Linked DNA regions of Homo sapiens: all the other regions are linked to region 3. The links come from fine-mapping of genetic effects on gene expression. A gene starts in region 3. Each other region holds a variant in brackets. All regions are shown on one strand. Distances are from middle to middle.

Region 1 (2,666 bases), 38 kb after region 3:
ATGTGTTGACGTTGAGCTGTGTCCCGAGGGTTTGATCTCAACCTGGAAATGTTTTGGGAGCAGGTTCCCGGCTTGCCTGCAATTGCCCGCACCTCTGTCTGTTTTAAACCTGGAGGGCAGGCGGGGCTGCGGCACCCACAAGAAGTGCGAATGCTGGGGCCTGGCTCCTCAGGGATTCCGATTCCAGCGTGGGAGGGGAGATGTCCACTGTGTCCTAAAAATATCGTGAGCACCGCAGGGTGCTGTGTGATTCTGGGCAGATAAGGGCAGGTGTGGTTTACAACTGCTGTTATGAACTCAGAAGCCCTCCCCGCAGCACTTCCTGGGCAGGGCAGCACAGGGCAGCTGGGAGCACCCAGGGGGTGTAAAGGAGGAGGGTGAAGGGACATGGGCACACTTTGCTTCCGGAGTCTGCATTCCCGAGTCAGCTTCTATCTCAGCAAGGGCCTTGGCAGTCGCTGCTTTTTTCTGGACATCAGTTCTTGATTCCTTCCATCTCCAGCCATGGCTGGGGCCAGGACTCCTTTGGAGTTGGTGCTTGAAGGCAGGGAGGGCTGTGTGAATGCCTGAGGCCCGTTCTTCCTGAACATTCTTGGATTCTGTTTCCCATCTAGTCTGGGCACCCAACAGCTTGTTTTCTCGAGGGGCTGCCTGCTTTGGGGATGGTGCCCATGGGTGGCACATTCTCCATCAACTATGTTTAAGCATTTCATCCTGTGTGTGTTGCCCTAAAAATAAACATCCCTGTGGGACGTTCCCTTGCAGTGTGGCTGGTGGCTATGTTCTGAGATGAGAGATAACCACTCTTTCTGTCCCTCTCTTCCCACCAGGGCGGGAGCAGTTCCACGGCCTGGGCTCCATGTACTGCCGGGGGGCGGCCGCCATCATCCTCACCTATGATGTGAATCACCGGCAGAGCCTGGTGGAGCTGGAGGACCGGTTCCTGGGCCTGACAGACACAGCCAGCAAAGACTGCCTCTTTGCCATCGTGGGGAACAAAGTGGACCTCACTGAGGAGGGGGCCTTGGCGGGCCAGGAGAAGGAAGAGTGCAGTCCCAATATGGACGCTGGGGACCGTGTCTCCCCAAGGGCACCTAAGCAGGTGCAGCTGGAGGATGCGGTGGCCCTTTATAAAAAGATCCTCAAGTACAAGATGCTGGATGAGCAGGATGTGCCGGCCGCTGAGCAAATGTGCTTTGAGACCAGCGCCAAGACCGGCTACAATGTGGACCTCCTGTTTGAGACCCTCTTTGACCTGGTGGTGCCAATGATCTTACAGCAGAGAGCTGAGAGGCCGTCACACACAGTGGATATATCCAGTCATAAGCCACCCAAGAGGACCAGATCTGGGTGTTGTGCCTGACTTTCGAGGGCCTCCTGGACTCAGACTGTGCATGTTGGGAAGGGGTCTGACCAGGCAAGCTGTGATCTGAAAGGAGCAAGGAACAGCAAGGAATTATTTTCCAGAATGACACCCGCAGCAGAATGTTGGAGTGGAAATGATGGCTGGCTATGAAGAG[GA/A]GGTCAACGTGTGTGGTCTCCTCAGTCTCTGTCAGAGGGGTGGGGAGGTGGGAAACAGGAATCCTCTGCAAAGCCCAATCTGCAGAGTCGAGACCCCTGGTGCTCTCTGCCCCGCTGCCTGGCACTGGTCCTTTGCAGCCAGCCACCAACGGCCCCCTTGCCCTTGCAGAGGCAGAAGCCTGCGTCTGCACCTGCACCTCTGACCGTTTCAGCACCCTGGGTTGTTACCACGTCCTACAACTCTGACATTTCTTGTTCTCAAGCGTTTCTCTTCACTGTGAGTTGTCTTTGGTCCTCCCACTTGGTACTTGTATCTTGATGCTTTATAATCCTGACTCTCGACGTGTTCATTTATACAAAATCAGGAATAACTTTGTTTTTATACTGATTGCAGCAATGTTGGCTACATGTATTATTAAAGAGGATTTTTGGAACAACTTAGGTATTGAGACTGAACTGACTTCATTTGCACCCCCAGTCCCAGGGACTCTCTGTGGGGTAGGGTGGGGGGCGCTGGGGAGATGGCTGTGAACTTGAGATACGTCTCTCTTTGTGCGGAAGCTCTGTGAAATCCTTACCAATTGCAGAATATTTAGATTGGCCCATCTGTCTAGTTTTCTTGATGACTTGAATTCCAATAATAGTAGCAAAGCTTAAAGCTCTGGTTCTGCTGAAGTCTGGGGCATCTGAGCACCCAGGTCTCTGAGTCAGAAACCCCCTTCGGGTCTGCTGCTGCTGGCCGTGGGGTGGCTGCTTTATTGGAAGATGTCAGACAGAGGTGCCAGGAGACAGCAGATTTGTTTTCCCAGAAATGTGACTGAACGAAAGCAGGCTGGGGTCGGGGCTGTTTGTTGGGAGGCAATGTGGGGCAGATGGCACTGGGCAGTGGGTTTCATAAGTGCTGTTTTCTTTCTTTTTTTTTTTTTTTTTTGTGATAGGGTCTTGCTCTGTCACCAGGTTGGAGTGCAGTGGCGTGATCTTAGCTCACTGCAGACTGTACCTCCGGGTTCAAGCAATCCTCCCGACTCAGCCTCCCAACATGCTGGGATTACAGGCATGTGCCACCATGCCCCAATAATTTTTTTTTTTTTGGTAGAGTTGGGGTTTTGCCATGTTGCCCAGGCTGGTCTCAAACCCTTGAACTC
Region 2 (2,666 bases), 30 kb after region 3:
CCTCAGGTTGTCACATCGATGTTTTGTGAGCTCCCTGCCAGGGGGCTGTCCGATCTGGCAAGGCAGAGAACTCATCTTAAAAGTTTCTGTTCTCCGCTGGGCACAGTGGCTCATGCCTGTGACCCCAGCACTTTGGGAGGCCAAGTTGGGAATATAGCATGAACCCAGGAGTTCAAGACCAGCCTGGGTAGCATAGTAAGTCCCCATCTCTACACAAACATAAAAGAAATTAGCTGGGTGTAGTGGTATGCACCTGTGGTCCCAGCTACTCGGGAGGCTGAGTTGGGAGGAACACTTAAGCCCAGAAGATGGAGGCTGCATTGAGCCATGATCGTACCACTGCACTTCAGCCTGGGTGACAGAGCAAGACTCTGTCTCAAAAAAATAATAATTAAATAGGCTGGGCGTGGTGCCTCGCGCCTGTAATCCCAGCATTTTGGGAGTCCAAGGTGGGTGGATCACTTGAGGTCAGGAGTTTGAGACCAGCCTGGCCAACATGGTGAAACCCTGTCCCTACTAATAGTACAAAAATTAGCTGGGCTTGGTGGTGTGTGCCTGTAATCCCAGCTACTAGGGAGGCTTAGGCAGGAGAATTGCTTGAACCCTGGACGTGGAGTTTGCAGTGAGCTGAGATTGCATCACTGCACTCCAGCCTGGGCAACAGAGCAAGACTCTGTCTCAAGAAAAAGTAAATAAATAAATAATGAAAGTTCCTGTTGTCTCAGTGTTTGCATTTCCTGGTAGGGCTCACTTTTCAATGAATTGAAATACCAAGCTTTCTAATTCTTACATTTCAATAGCTGCCCTTTTATTTCCCACTTTCACTGGGTAAATTGCTGATTTTCACTCCTGGTGCACCTGGTATTCACCTGGGGCGCTTTTAAAGCTGATACAAATGCCAGCCCCACTCTTGCCCTGGCAGCTGGGTCAGGGTCTGAGCATCAGTATTTTTTAAGTCTCCCCACCCCATGCTTAAGATGTGAGCCAAGGGTGTCCGTGGCTTCTGATGGCTATCTCAACCCACTCTTATTTAAACCAATAGTGAAAACGACACAACACTTGGGGTAGAAGCCTGGCTGTGTTTGGCTTTGGGAAGGCTGAAGAGTGAAATGGAAAGCACTTGGGCAGTTTTTGGTTCCGCAACAGTGAATCAGGATTACTGTGG[G/C]TGCTGACTTCCCTTCCCCTTCTGCCTGAACCCTGGGCCATGTCAGCTCCACTGATCTGGCAACATCCGGAGCACCCCCAGGACCAGGGAGAAGGTCATCATCTGAGAATAAGAAACGTAGAAGATTGGTCCACTGCAAAAGCGCCCAGTCGGCCCCAGGAGGTGGTGTGTAAATGGAGGGATGATGAGACCCGGGACATGGGCAGCCCTGGGACGGTGGCATCCATCCTTAGGTTTGGGAGGAATCTCACGATTTATGGAACAAGCACTTCTATTACAGGGCCTAATGTGCTGGGTGCAGCTCCAGCCAGTTCACCTGTGTGCAGATTCTGCTTTCTCAGCCACCCTTTGGCAGGTGTAACCCACATTTTAGTGACGGGGAAACTGAGGTACCGCATGTCTAAGTGACTTGCCCAAGGTCACACGGTGGGGATTTGAATGTAGTCTGTCTCTAGAGTGGGGGCTGTTTACCAGAACGCTCTGCAGTCCCTGCCCAGCGAATTAGCCGGCACTTCCAGGATAGTTCTCTGCGTAAAATTTGGAGCTCCTGGGAAGGTGGCTGCATTCTGCAAATGCCTGTGCTCTGTGGGATCACAGGGTGGAGGCAGGCTTTTCTCCTGCCCAGCAGCCCACCTCAAAGGGGCCCTAGGCCCCTTCCTCTGCCTCTGGGGGTGGTTAGACCAGACTCCCTGGGGTGCCTGTTGCCAGCGTGCTTCTCAGGGCTCCACCGCTCCTGTGTCTGTTGCCCACCTCCTTCTCCATCTGTGCCTCAGTTCCTCCTCCTGTAAAACATGGGAAAGGGAAGCCTGCACGAGCATAATAAACCCTGAGGACTCACACTGTGCTGGCCATGCTTCTTCCCATAGCTAATGCAGCGCTTCCTATCCTTGATACAGGACGGGATCGTGGAAGTTAACAGCTCATTCCCTGCTATAAATTACGAAGTCCTGTTCTGGCTTCCATTTCTCTTGTTTAGACAGAACTTAAACCTCATAAAGTGAGTGGAATTAGCTCTTTAGGTGAACAGACACAATTGTGTTTTTAGATCTGTAAATTCGAGAAACAAACCTGGTGGGACCTGCCTCCTGAGGGCCCTGTGTCTGTGTAGAGGTGGGGTGGGTGGGACCTACTTCCCCAGGGTCCTGTGTCTGTGTAGAGGTGGAGCGGGTGGGACCTACTTCCCTAGGGCCCTGTGTCTGCGTAGAGGTGGGGCGGGTGGGACCTACTTCCCCAGGGTCCTGTGTCTGTGTAGAGGTGGGGCGGGTGGGACCTACTTCCCCAGGGTCCTGTGTCTGTAGAGGTGGGGCGGGTGGGACCTACTTCCCCAGGGTCCTGTGTCTGTGTAGAGGTGGGGCGGGTGGGACCTACTTCCCCAGGGTCCTGTGTCTGTGTAGAGGTGGGGCGGGTGGGACCTACTTCCCCAGGGTCCTGTGTCTGTGTAGAGGTGGGGCGGGTGGGACCTACTTCCCTAGGGCCCTGTGTCTGCGTAGAGGTGGGGCGG
Region 3 (2,634 bases):
TCTACACGCTGCATATTTTAAAAGCATTTCAAGGTTTATCCTTTAAAACGGAAGGAGGACCTGGGAGGCCGAAGCGGGTGGATCACGAGGTCAGGAGTTCGAGACCAGCCTGGCCAACATGGTGAAACCCCGTGTCTACTAAAAATACAAAAATTAGCCGGGCATGGTGGCACATACCTGTAATCCCGCCTACTCGGGAGGCTGAGGCAGGAGAATCGCTTGAAACCGGAAGGCGGAGGTTGCAGTGAGCCGAGATCGCGCACTGCTCTCCAGCTTGGGCAACAACAGCAAAACTCCGTGTCAAAAATAAAAAAAAAAAAAAAAAAAGAAGGAGGAAATATTTCTCAAGTAGCGACTGCAACTTCCATAGTCAAATTTTCATTCCAAGCTATAAATGGAGATGACTGTCCACTTTTCAGGACAAAAAGCTTCTTGCAAAAGTAGAAGAGCAAAAGCAAAATCCTCCACTAGAAAGCGCCCCCATCTCTAATCTGTAACAGTGAGAGCCTCAGGACGAGTTCCGCAGACGCTCATTTAAAGCAAACTTTTTCAATGACCTTGAGGGTGGCTGTACTTACACGCGGAGAAGCAAATCGACCGCAGCTGGAAAGGCGCTGGGTCGAGCGTGAGAGGAACACGGGTTTTACCTAAGGGAGAGTGGAAGAGAGAAGGGGGTTCCCCAAGGGCCCCGGCCCCTTCGCCTCGTTCGGGCCCCGCGGCCAAGCTCCTCGCACCGCAGCCCCGGCTGTGCAGAAGCGGAGGGGCGGAAGGTGCTCTCAGAACTTTCATTTTCCACCCTGCAGCAGTCCCGAGCCTCGGCTGGAGAACTCGGATGCTTGCGAAACGGCGAGGTCCAGCAGGGGCGGGACGGGGGCGGTGGGCGGAGGAGGATAGGGCGGGGCCGCGGCGGTGAAAGGGCCCGGGGGCGGGGGCGGGGGCGGGGCGAGGCGAGGCCGCCGCGGTCCGGGCCCCCGACGTGGGCTCCGTGCTCTGCACCCAGCTCCTTCCCGGGCGCGCACACGCGCTTCCTCTCTTGAGCTCCCGGGCGTCCGGAGGCGAAGGTCCCGGAGCGTTCACGAGAATCCGGGTCCCGGCGAGTCCGGGGTCCGCTCCTCCAGCTGCGCCCAGGGCGCACGAGCCGGCCAGCCTCGGGGAGAGGGCGCGGGGGCGCTGGGGGTTCTTACGGGAAGATGAGGAAGCCCGACAGCAAGATCGTGCTCCTGGGGGACATGAACGTGGGGAAGACGTCGCTGCTGCAGCGGTATATGGAGCGGCGCTTCCCGGACACGGTCAGCACGGTGGGCGGCGCCTTCTACCTGAAGCAGTGGCGCTCCTACAACATCTCCATCTGGGACACCGCAGGTGAGGCCGGCGCCGCATGAGCCACACCGCCCTGGGGCTCCGCCGGGGACGGGGGGCGCGGGGCTTCCAGCAGGGCACCCGGCCGCGCACAGGGTCCCGGCCTCGGACAGCAAATGCCTCCTTCTCGGGGTTTCCCACTCGTCCTCCCTTGCTGGTTGGGCTGAGCGCTGCCTCTCAGCCACTCAGTGACCTCAGGGACAACCCAAGTTGCAGAGAACCCGCTGGTCATTTGTGTACCTAAGCTGCCTTTGCTCCCGAGCCCCGCGTTCCTGCTCTGCCGCCCTGGGAACCAGAGACGCTCCTCTGTGGCTGCTTTGTTAGGTATTTTCAGTTTTCACGTACCCGTAGGAACATGATATCCTTTGAGATTCACTTGAGGGGTGAGCAGAGCTGGTGTTATTAGCCCCTTTCTAAGAAAAAGTAAAATGAGGCACAGAGTGTTCCCCCCTGTTGGGTTTAGTCAGGAGAGAGGAAATAAAACTGGAGCCTCCGGACCTCTTAGCCCGGAGCATATCTGCCTTTTACAGTTAATCTTCTGCTTGATCTTGGCTCAGATACGTCATATGGGTTTGGGTTGGAGTGACTTCCGGTGGAAGCATTTTTAAGATAGGTAATGAGTTATTTTTATTGTGTAGTATTTGTGACTTTTCAAAAGTACAACTTAGAGGATCTCAATTCAGGCTTTCTGTTTAACTTTGGAAAATAACACTGGTGATTGTAGCATTGCAATGGAATATATTTCCTTCTCCTTACAAAAGAATAAGATATTGTAAGTGAATGAAGAAACTGGAAATAGTGTGACACATTTTCAATGAGTGTGAGTTTTTAGAAGCCTGAAACTCTGAAAGTTCTGACTTCTTTTATGTTAGCATCTTAAAAAGTCATATACCCAAAGGCCCCGTCCAGAATTCTTAAATTGCCATCTTGGGTGTATCAGTATGCTGAATAAACAAGATGATAATGAATTCTCTCTTTAAAACTGAATTAACGAAGCTCACAGAGGTACTTCCAGTTCTCCCCCTCCCTTTTGCCTTCTTTGATGCTTTTTTATTATTATCCCAGTTAACATCGTGACTAATTTATTGGCAATCATCTTGTGAAAACAATGTCCCCCAGGTAAAGAGGTGCATTTCCCTGATCTTTGCTCCAACTCTGTCTTCTGCCTCAGGCTGCAGGATGAGGTTTACTGAGCTGACTCCCTCACACTGAGCATTTGGTAACGATGGAACACACGCTCTAGAAGTCAAATCGAACCCAATTCACGAACCCAAT

The links. PIP is the estimated chance that this variant, and not a neighbour inherited with it, causes the effect.
Region 1: its variant is fine-mapped to the expression of RAB20 in monocytes after LPS (Fairfax 2014, PIP 0.95). The same link has a PIP of 0.9 or more in monocytes and monocytes after interferon gamma.
Region 2: its variant is fine-mapped to the expression of RAB20 in monocytes after R848 (Quach 2016, PIP 0.91).

Annotation. Positions count from the first base shown.
Region 1 is chr13:110,522,362-110,525,027 of GRCh38, reverse strand. It overlaps RAB20 (RAB20, member RAS oncogene family), which reads left to right. Exons shown (of 2, transcript NM_017817.3): 2 at 831-1,962. The coding sequence ends at 1,363. Among named protein-coding and RNA genes, the nearest start is that of COL4A2-AS1, 16 kb to the right of the region's middle. RefSeq lists an enhancer at 261-400. The variant GA/A (reference allele first, on the strand shown) is at 1,521.
Region 2 is chr13:110,530,409-110,533,074 of GRCh38, reverse strand. All of the region lies in intron 1 of RAB20 (RAB20, member RAS oncogene family), which reads left to right. Among named protein-coding and RNA genes, the nearest start is that of COL4A2-AS1, 24 kb to the right of the region's middle. RefSeq lists an enhancer at 1,701-2,317. The variant G/C (reference allele first, on the strand shown) is at 1,166.
Region 3 is chr13:110,560,076-110,562,709 of GRCh38, reverse strand. RAB20 (RAB20, member RAS oncogene family) reads left to right here and starts at 988. Exons shown (of 2, transcript NM_017817.3): 1 at 988-1,362. The coding sequence starts at 1,191. RefSeq lists silencers at 859-1,308, 1,200-1,389, 1,369-1,428.